2 separate regions of the Homo sapiens genome follow, and region 2 is linked to region 1. The links come from fine-mapping of genetic effects on gene expression. A gene starts in region 1. The other region holds a variant in brackets. All regions are shown on one strand. Distances are from middle to middle. Region 1 holds the start of NECAB2 (N-terminal EF-hand calcium binding protein 2). Region 2 overlaps NECAB2 (N-terminal EF-hand calcium binding protein 2).

Region 1 (5,362 bases):
GGAGTGCAGTGGCGCGATCTTGGCTCACTGCAACTTCTGCCTCCCGGGTTCAAGCAATTCTCCTGTATCAGCCTTCCGAGTAGCTGGGACTACAGACGCCCGCCATCACAACTGGCTAATTTTTGTATTTTTTAGTAGAGACGAGGTTTCACCTTGTTGGTCAAGCTGGTCTCGAACCCCTGACCTCAGGTGATCCACCCGCCTCGGCCTCCCAAAGTGCTGGGATTACAGGCGTGAGCCACGGCGCCCTGCCCACCAGCACTTTAAAGCCTGAGAAGGATCCCAGCTTCTGCGGTGGCCCCCACCCCAATCTCAGTGGCTTGTTTTAACAAGGAGGGTACTGAGACCCAGGGAGAGGCAGCAACATGTACACATTTCCCGACACCAGGGAGGGCTGCTGGGGCCAGGTCAGCCATGGAGGAGGAGGAGGTAATACTCACTCTGACCCTTCCACCCTCTGTCCTCGCCTTGGGGTAAAGGACAGATGCCCTCGCCCCCCATCCCTCCAGGCAACGAGAAAGGGGGCACCCTTGGTCATTTCTAGGCACCTGGGCGGTGAGACTGAAGCACAGCTATGGGAGGGCCTCTCAAACATCACCCCTCCTCCTGGCTGAACCTCAGATCCCCAAGCCCTCCTCAAAGATCCAGCCTGGGCACCCCGCAGCCCCGTTCCTGACTGGGCAAGGCTCCTCAAAACTGGGGTCCCTATCTGGGTGTCCCAGATCCCCCTTGAGGCCAGGCACCAGGTAGGTGCCGGCTCTGGGCAGGAATGCTGAACACATGAGTGACATGGCAGGGCTGACACCTGGTAATGTCAGCCAGCTCCAGGAGTCTGCATGAGCACCTCCCGCCCCACCCCCCGCTCATCACTCCTTTTGGCAGGTGAGGAGATGGAACCTCAGAGCCCCCACCCTGACTGGGCAGGGCTTCCATGCAGGGCAGCTTGGGGCTGCAGGGCTCTGCCCAGGACTTTCAGTGGGAGCTCTGCGGGGGTCCTGAGGAGGGGATGGTTTGGCTGCATGGGTGTGTCTCTGGCTGTGTGTGCGTGCGTAAGCGAGTGCGTGAGTGTGTGAATGTGTGCCTGCGAGTGTGGCACTCTAGAGCTCCCCCTGCTCTGGCCGGCCCTCCCAGCCCAGACCCCGGCCAAGGGTTCCAGGAGCAGGGAAGAGGAGAGAGGAAGGGAGGGAATCCCCCGACTCACAGGGATCCGCGATACACGCGTGTGCACATTCACACACACCCACCACTCTCCCAGAAATCCACCACACAGGCAGAGGCAGCCCCCAGCCCCACCCCAGCAGGACCCTCGCTGAAACACGCAGTCAACATCCCCAGAAGCCTCCTCCACCTCCTCCTAGCACTCTCTGCTGGGAGAAGTCCTCCTCCTCCGAGCCGCCCCCTGAAGATTCCTCCCTCCCGGGTGGGGCGGGTGGGAGGGTGAGGTGGGCTTCCCAGAGATGGGTGATTTGGGTCCCAGGGGAGTTAGGAGGGGTGAGGGGTGAGTCTGGTCCATGAAGAGGACCCAGCTCTCTGTAGGGTAGAGGGGTGTGGGGAAGGGAACAGAGGACTTGGAATGGAAGGGGGCGGGGTGGGGAAGACCAGAGGGGTACCAGCTCAGGGCTGATGGGCGATGGCTCTGGCTCAATGGAAAGGAGACGAGAAGACAGAAGGTGGGGAGGGGGCTTCACTTTTAAAGTGGCAGTAGCTGGGGCAAAGGGTCTTTGAGCGTGAGATGAACGGGGGCTCAGGGTCTAGGGCGAAGAGAGGTGGGCTAGAGGTAGGGGTTGTTAGGGGTCTCAGAAAAGTATCGCTCCGGACAGGATCCGGGATGGAGAGGAGGAGGCGGCTGGACGCGGCGAGGGGCTCCGGTCCCGCGGGGTAAAGGGTGGGGGTTTGGCTTGGACAAAACTAGGGGGACAGTGGCCGGGTCCGGGGGCTCACGGCTCCCCACTGTGGGCAGGCAGGGACTCCGAGAAGCGCCGGTGGAGGGGCGGAGGAGGGGGGTCTCCCGGTCCAGGGAGAGGACTGGGCTGGAGACCGGCCTGGACGTGGCGGGGCTGGGGGCTCCCGCTCCGGCACGCGGAGGGGCCGGGGGTCTCCTGCCCGGGTAGGGAGGGCCTCGCGGGTCGCGGCGTCGGGGTCCGCCCGAGGGGCGGAGGGGGCTCCGGGTCCCAGCGGAGGCCACGGCGGGGGTCCCGGCCGGCGCGTACTCACGTCCAGGATGACGGCGGTGCCCCCGCGCGGCGAGGCTGGGCCGGGGTCCGCGGGGGCGGCGGGGGCCAGCGACTCCCGGGGCTCGCCCATCCTGGCGCCCACCCAGCGCAGCAGCCCGCCCAGCGCCCGGCCCTGCTGCGGCGGCTCCCGGAGCAGCCTGTGCGCGCCGGCCCTGCACAGGCGCGCCGCCCGCTCGCACATCGCGCCGCGCCCGCCGCCGCCGCCCGGAAGCCCGCCGACCCCCGCCCAGCTGCGGCCCGCCCCCGCGCGACCCCCTCCCCGCGCTGCCCGCGCCGCCCCGCCCTCTCTCCCGCTGCCCCCGCGGCCGCGGACACCGCGGGGACTGGCCGGCGCCGGGGGGCGGGCCGGCCGGACCCCGAGCCACGTGCCCGCTCCCCGCCGCCCCCACCCCCGCCGGCCGGGCGCGGGGCCTGAGGACTGCCCGCCGGGGCGAGGGGCGCGGGCGCAGCCACAGAGGGGGCTACCCGGAGGGGAGGGGTATGTGGGGCCTGGGGGCGGGGCGGCGCCCCTGGGGCCTGCTCCCCAAAAGTCTCCTGCTCTCCCCGCTTCTAAAGTCCCCCCTCCCACTCGCGGCGCGCAGCAGAGGCCGAAGCGCGGGTGTCCAGCGAGCCCGGAGCGCCCTCTGCCGGCTCCAGCCCCGGGGAGCGGCGCCCACGCCCCGCGGCCCCGTCACGCCCGCGGGCGCCCATCCTTAACTCCCGCGGGCGTGCACGCCCCCTCAGGCCGCCCCCTTGGTTACAAAACGCCCAGAACCAGTCTTCACCCCAGAACATCTTTCCTTCATACTCCATCCACCCATCCATCTATCCACCCACCCACCTGTCCGTCCATCCATCCATCCATCCATCCACCTGCCTACCCGTCCATCAATCCATCTATACATCCATCCACCCATCCTCCCATCCATCCATCCGGCCGGCCGACTGTCCGTCCATCCATCCACCCACCCTCCCAACCATTCATCCATCCATCCATCCACCCACCCAGCATCCTCCCATCCATCCATCCATTCACCCACCCACTCATCCTCCCTCCCTGGCATCCATCCATCCACCCTCCATCCATCCATCCATCCACCCTCCCATCCATCCATCCATCCATCCATCCATCCATCCATCCATCCGTCCATCCATCTGCCCGCCCGCCCATCTGTCTGTCCATCCACCCACCCACCCTCCCATCTATCCATCTATCCACCCCCCTACCCTCTCATCCATCCATCCATCCACCCACCTACACACCCTCCCATCCATCCACCCACCATCCTTCCATCCATCCATCTATCCTCCCTCCCTCCCATCCATCCATCCATCCTCCCTCCCATCCATCCACCCACCCACCCACCCCCCTCCCTCCCATCCATCCATCCATCCATCCACCCACCCACCATCCTCCCATCCATCCAACCATCCTCTCATCTATCCATCTGTCCACCCACCCACCCATCCTCCCATCCATCCATCCACCCATCCATTTAAAAGATGAATTAAGGAGAACCCACTAGGTGCCAGGCAGGTGCCCAACCACGGAGTTCCAGCAATGGGCAAAACAGATGGTGTACTTGGTCTCCCAGAGCTCCTGGAGCTTACATCCAAGTGGGCAGAGCCAAACACTGAAATGATTCCACAAACAAATGAACAATTAAAACTGAACTGCTGGAAGGGTGTGGTGGCTCATGCCTGTGATACCAACACTTTGGGGAGCCAAAGAGGGCGGATCACTTGAGGTCAGGAGTTCAAGACCAGCCTGGCCAACATGGTGAAACCCCGTCTCTATTAAAAATACAATAACTAGCTGGGCGAGGTGGCAGTCACCTGTAATCCCAGCTACTTGGGAGGCTGAGACAGGAGAATCATTTCAACCCAGAAGCAGAGGTTGTAGTGAACCAAGCGCCACAGCACTCCAGCCTGGGTGACAAAATGAGACTCTGTCTCAAAAAAAAGAAAAAAAAACTGCACTGCTATGAAAAGGTAGCACCTTAGACCATGAAAGGAGTATTTGCTGTGACGGCAGTGGAGGGGTTTGTGTCAGAAGAGGCTTCCTAGAGGAAGTGATTCTTATGCTGAGACATCCCAAGGAAAAGGAGTTAAAGAAAGGCGGGAAACTGTCCTGGGCTGGGGACTCTCTGTGCAAAGGCCTTGGGGCAGGCAGAGACCTGGCCAGCAGGAGGGACTGAAAGGAGGCCGCATGGCAGAACAGAGAGGAGGGAGGCCTGGGACAGGCTGCGGAGGGGGCGGGGCTGCAGCGCCCTCCTGGACATCACTGCCTGCACACACCCGCCACTCCCACCCCCAGACTCTAGTACAGCTGCCCGCTCAACTGCCCCCACACTTGGGGCACCATCCTTTGTACCCCAAGGCCCCAGCCATGGACCTCATCCAGGACCACATGCCCCAGGACTCCTCCCACAATCCCCTTTCCTCCCTTCCCCCCAGCCCAGTGCAGGGTTCCGGGAACGCAGCTCCCTCCGAGCACAGAGTCCTCAGACGCATGAGAGCAGGTGGGCACTGGCTTTATTTGGGACCTGCTTCTGGAAGGCGCAGGGCTGCAGGTCTCCTGGCTGGGTGCTCAGCTGGTCACACCAGCAGCTTTCCCCACAAATCCCAGGTCTAGGCCAACCCTGGCCTGCGGCCGCTGTTACCACCTCAGACACTGGTCTAAGTCCAGGGCAGCCTGGGATCCCTACTCCTCTTGACCCCAAAGGCCAGCAACGTGGGCTGACACCCCTCCCCGGGGCATCTTTGGACGGGTCCTGCATCCAGCAGGGATGTGGTCATCTCTGTCCTCTCAGGGCCTGGGAGCCAGCGGGTCTGGCCGAGTGTTAGGGTGGCTTCCTGGTCTCCTTCCTTAGCAGGGAGCTGGCCACAGCCAAGGCGCCCCCCTGCACAAACCTCACGAAGTTGTCCCCGGCCAGCGGCCCCATGGCGTACAGGCCCTCCTGGCGGGTGCTCTGGTAGGTGAAGGGGTCCACGTCAATGGGGTTCCTCTTGGCGCTCAGCGGCTGGTCAGGATCCACTGCAAAGTCAGCCCCTGCCCCAGGCAGGAAGGAGAGGTCGGGGTGGGAGCCGATGAGGACCAGCACCAGGGAGACCCCAAACACCTTCTCGACACCCTCGAGGTCCTGGAA
Region 2 (5,362 bases), 25 kb before region 1:
GGCCCCTAGAGCCTCCATCCTTCCAGCCCAGAGGCAGCTCCGGTTGGCCGGTGAAGGGCGGGGCCTGAAGCCAGGCCCGGATTGGCCCCTGCTGACCGCCCGGGCCAGTTAGAGGCTGGGGAGGAGGACCTGGTCCCACCCCGTCTCCAGGACGCCCAGGTACTCCGTGGTTACCAGCCAGCCTGGTTGTTAGGGCGACGGTGCTCTAAAAATAAGCTTCAGAGTCTCCCTCCCGAGGCGCCCGCTGAGTTGTTATGACAACCGGGCCACGGGGTCCCCTCCGAGCCGCTCCCGCAGCTGGCTTCAGGAAGGGGGTAACTCCACCTCAGCCTCATCCCTGCAGGAGGGGAAGTTTGAGCTTCCTCCCTCGGACTTCATTCCACGTCAGCCTCTGTCTCCCTCCATGCGGGGAGCCCCTTGTTCCTGCCCCCATGAATGCCTGAGAACCCCCAAACTAAAAGTAGCAATACCCTTTACAAAGGGTGTAAAAAAAATACACAAAAGTAGGAGAAACATAAAACCACCTCAATCCCAGGGTTCTGAGAGCTCAGTTACCTTGGCTTATGTGGGTATACGGGTGTGCTGTGTGCATGTGGATAGGTTTGGGTAACAGAATGCCTCATAATAATTGCTAACATTGCTAATATTAAATGCAAGCTACAGCACCGGGCCCTGTGCTAAACCGGAGACATCATTTTGGTTCATCCTAACGACACCCCTATGAGGGAGGGGTCCCATGCTCCAGGTTATTTTCTTGATTATCAGAGGAGGAATCTAAGCCTCAGAGAGGACAAGTCCCTGGCCCAGGGTCACACAGCTATGAAGTGGCACAACCAGAATTCTGACTGATACCTGAGCCCATCTGTCTGTAGGCCCTAAGACAAACTTTTCTTTCCACCAAATGGTCATATTGTGAGCACTCTATCCCGAGTCACGAAACATTATCTGAAAATGTTTTCTGTAAGGGCTGTGCCATTTTCTATCACCTGTGGACGTCCCATATCACACTTAATACATTTGCTACTGCTGGTCACTTCCTTCCTTGTTTTGAAACTCTCTCGAATCATCACGTCTCTCTTTCATCCTGGTGCTGCCTTTCGGCCAATATCTGCTCCAGCCACTTCAGAGCAAAGTCTCCTTGAAGCTAGGGCCTTGCAACACGGGACCCTGCTGACCACCCTCTGCTCCTGGAGCTGCTCCTGCTGCCTGCAGGCCCGCCTGACCCCCCAACACTCTCTCTTCCCAGGCGCCCCTCCTTGGGCCTGAACAACACGAGCATCCCCCGGGGTTTGATCCTTAGCTTCGTCCTCGGCAGCTCCACGCCCCACCTGGGGGATGTCTTTTTCATGGTTCCCTGGCCCCTCTGCAGCCCAGACTTTTGTCCTGAACTCCAGGCTTAACTCTGCACTCCCTCAGGGGTTGGAAGGAGTAGACGCCGTGGTCAGGCCAGGGCTTACTTTGCTCTCCAGCCTCCCAATCAGCTCTGCCAAGCGGCTGATCTGGGCTTCCAGACCCTCTTCCTTTGCATCCTCCGTGGCTGCGGTAGAGAAAGAGACACACAGACTTCAGTGGTGGGCAGGACGAGGGCTTCGGGGGGAAGCTGGAAACATCCAGCCCCTCCAGGGGCATCAAACTTGCTCATCTCCCCAGTCCCTGTCAGAGGACTCTCAGAACTCCTCGGGACCCCCAGCTGGTACCCCCACCAGGGCCCCCGCTTTCTCTCACCAGATGGAAGGGTCTTGCCTTGTTCCATAGCCATGAGCTTGTGGTTGGGGGCAGAGGCGGGAGTGGGGCTTCCACACCAGGTCTGTGCCGCGCTGTGGCTGGGTTTGATGTGGTTCTGTCTGCAGTTTGGATGGGAACACACACAGACCATGGCGGTGGCTTCAGGGCCCTTACCACTTCCAGCATCTTCCACAGGCATTTATTACGCAAGACAGTGGACTCACACATGCACAGAACTTGCATCATGGCCTTTGTTTTGACAGAGGAGGAAATGAGGTTCTTAAAGCAGGTGACTCAGCCAGGGCCACGCAGCTAGCTGGGCAGAGCTGGGATTCGAATTCAGCTCCATTCTAGGACCCCACGGCCTAGGCCTTTTCCCCAAGAGATTCAGTTCCAGAGTGAGGCTGAGCCAGGGACCCACCCCCACTCTAACAGCTCGAAGCTTTCGGGCACGTGTAGAGCCCAAGCTGTGGAGTGACCAAGTCCCCCTCCCTCCCTCATGATAGGCCCATTTAATGTTTGGTGCCCTCTGGGGTGGGGGACCTGGTTTCAAGACCCCCCTCCAACACATACACATAAAAGCGAGACCTAAAGAGACACTGACAGTCGGGATGTAACAGGACAGAAACTGTGATCCTGACCTGGGCCTGGCCCCATCTCCCGGCCCTGGACACCCCTCTCCTGTGCATACTCATGTGCATACACACCCCTGCGTGCCCTGACAGGCACAGCTAGCCACAGGCAGAGGCAGACACACACACACACACACACACACACACACACACACACACACACACACAGCTCACCTTGCACTGTGTCCAGCACATAGTAGGGACTCAAAAAT[G/A]CTCAATGAATGACCAAATCCTCCCATGCAAAAGGATGCTGAAAAGCTCCTGGCAGACATACAGAAACACAGACACTCCCCCAGAAGACACACAGAGTGCCCTGTGCACGGCCCCAACACCCGCTTGGTCTCTGTGCATCGCGGTCTTGGTGCATTCTGGAATTTGTCTCTTGTGAACCTTGAACACTCCGCCAGGCTCTCCCCCTTGCGGAGGGAGCAAACTCGACTCCCGCCTTGGGAGGGGAGAGGCTGGCAGAGTCTTTATGGTGTCAATCATGGCTTCTCTATAAACCAGCAGGAAATTAAATGTATCCCTCAGACCATGACGGGTTGCTCAGGGCTCCCGGGTGGTGGGGTCTGAGCCAGTAGCCTGTGCTAGAGGTGACATCCTGGGAGACTGTCCTGGGGCTGGGAAACAGGATAGTCCTCAGGGACCCACAGCCTAGAGCCAAACTAGCTGAGATTTGGGGAAGTTCGAGGGAGGGGCATGTGTGGAACAGAGGTATCACGACAAGCTGCCCCGTCTGACAACATCCCCAAGTAAGGTCCCCACCATGGGGGCAGGTGGGTGTAACTGCTGACGCGTGATGGAGCTGACCCAGTGTGGGAAGTCTGCCCTGAAAACTGCGCAGCCATACTATCTGTTCTGCGGCAGGAGAAAAACAGCAAGTTTTTCATCAAGATAGTAACAGGAAAACCCAGGAAATCTAAGTGTCAGCTTTTTTCACAGCGATGGCTGCTAATTCTGGGGCACCCAAGAATCACAAGACTGACCACATGTGCAGAGTTCTGGGCTCCAGTCCAGGGATTCTAGCCAGTGAGTATGGCCAGGAGCCCAGGAATGTGTATTTTAATTTTCCCAGGTGATTCAGCGCAAATGCTCAGATCAAACTCATTTGGGAAACAGTGTCTCAGAGTTACCTTCACAATCATGTCTGATCAGGACCAGCTCTTCAACTACGAAGAAACACACGATCAAACCCCAGTCCCCCAGCAAACCAATATCCTGGTCCTGAGGTACCTCTCTGCCTGGAAAATTAAGGGCTCAATCGAGCTTGGGTGCCGACACCTGGCTGTTTCCCTCATCTGTTTGCATTTTCTCTTTTTCTTCTGTGTCAAGCACATCAGCTGTTCTGGGAAGAACTGAGCAAAGAAGGGTTTTTCTCAATTTGAAACAGCAAATGGAGGTGGGCGGGGGGACGGGTGCTCGTGTTCCCCGGGAGATGGGACTGCTGAGCCACGAGAATGTCGCTCCTCTCTAAATACCAGGTCACACCCCTAACACAGCAGCCACCACCTAGGATGGGACCCCAGATGCATTCCCATGGTTCCAAGCACACAAACAAGGCCTAACACAAGACCAGAAAGAAACACTCCTCTTTCACGTCTCTTTCAGTCCTCCTGAGAAACTCTCAACTTGCTACTACTGTCTTCAACACCTCTCTGATTTCCCCCCAGTCTCTCTTTTTAACAGAGAGGTGGCAAGCCTCAGGATTCAAGCTGGATCGTAAACAATGACAGGTGCTTATTTTTACAGTTACTTCACTTACGGCATGTGATGCCGAGAGTGCAGTTATAACCATATGCCATTTCCTAAACTGCTTTCTAATTTTCAAAAGTGGGCTGGGGTGTGGTGGCTCCTGCCTGTAATCCCAGCCCTTTGGAAGACTGAGACAGCAGGATTGCTGAGACCAGGAGTTTGAGAACAGCCTGGCCAACATGGCGAGACCCCGTCTCTACAAAAAAAAAAAAAAAAAAAATAGCTGGGTGTGGGTGGGACTACATGCCTGTAGTCCCAGCTCCTTGGGAGGCTGAGGTGGGAGAATTGCTTGAACCTGAGTTGGAGATTGCAGTGAGCCACAATGGTGCCACTGTACTCCAGCCTGGGGGACACAGCAAGATTCTGTGTCAATAAATAAAATAAGGCCGGGCTCCATGGCTCAAGCCTGCAATCCCAGCACCTGGAGGCTGAGGCGGGTGGATCACCCTAAAGACCAGCCTGGCCAACATGGTGAAACCCCATCTCTACTAAAAATACAAAAATTAGCTGGGTGTGCTGGTGGGCATCTGTAATCCCAGCTACTAGGGAGGCTGAGGCAGGAGAATCGCTTGAACCTGGGAGGCGGACGTTGCAGTGAGCTGAGATCTCGCCACTGCACTCCAGCCTGGGTGACAGAGCAAGACTCGATCTCAAAAAAAAAAAAAAAAGAAAAGAAAAGAAAAGGAAATAGAAAAAGAAAAAAGAACGAATGAGAGAAAGAGAGAAAGAAAGAGAGAGAGAGAAAGAGAAAATAGGCTAGCTGTGGTGGCTCACACCTTTCATCCCAGCACTTTGGGAGGCTAAGGCAGGTGGATCACGTGAGGCCAGGAGTTCAAGACCAGCCTGGCCAACATGACAAAACCCCGTCTCTACTAAAAATACAAAAATCAGCCAGGCATGGTGTTACACACCTGCAGTCCCAGCCACTCAGGAGGCTGAGGCATGAGAATTGCTTGAACCCAGGGAGGGAGAGGTTGTAGTGAGCCAAAATCACGCCACTGCACTCCTGGGCGACAGAGCGACACTTTTTGTCTAAAACAAAAAAATAAATAAATAAATAAAACGTGGGCCAAACAACAGAATAGTTCTGCATAAACAATTAGCATGTGGATGCAGCAAAACAAATTAGAGTCTGGGAAATGGTGTCTTCACTGTATTAATAAATATGTACACCAGGCATTCTCCTGAGCATTTACTATCTCATTCAATCCTTGCAATGGCTGAGATTTTAGGTATATAATTGTGCCTATATT

The links.
Region 2: its variant is fine-mapped to the expression of NECAB2 in whole blood (INTERVAL, PIP above 0.99).

What each region holds. Positions count from the first base shown.
Region 1 is chr16:83,965,702-83,971,063 of GRCh38, reverse strand. It overlaps NECAB2 (N-terminal EF-hand calcium binding protein 2), which reads right to left and starts at 2,820. Exons shown (of 13, transcript NM_019065.3): 1 at 2,215-2,820. The coding sequence starts at 2,415. It overlaps OSGIN1 (oxidative stress induced growth inhibitor 1), which reads right to left. Exons shown (of 6, transcript NM_182981.3): 6 at 4,732-5,362. The coding sequence ends at 5,057. RefSeq lists a silencer at 2,755-2,944.
Region 2 is chr16:83,990,784-83,996,145 of GRCh38, reverse strand. It overlaps NECAB2 (N-terminal EF-hand calcium binding protein 2), which reads right to left. Exons shown (of 13, transcript NM_019065.3): 7 at 1,726-1,844; 8 at 1,458-1,537. Among named protein-coding and RNA genes, the nearest start is that of NECAB2, 25 kb to the right of the region's middle. RefSeq lists a silencer at 101-160. The variant G/A (reference allele first, on the strand shown) is at 2,570.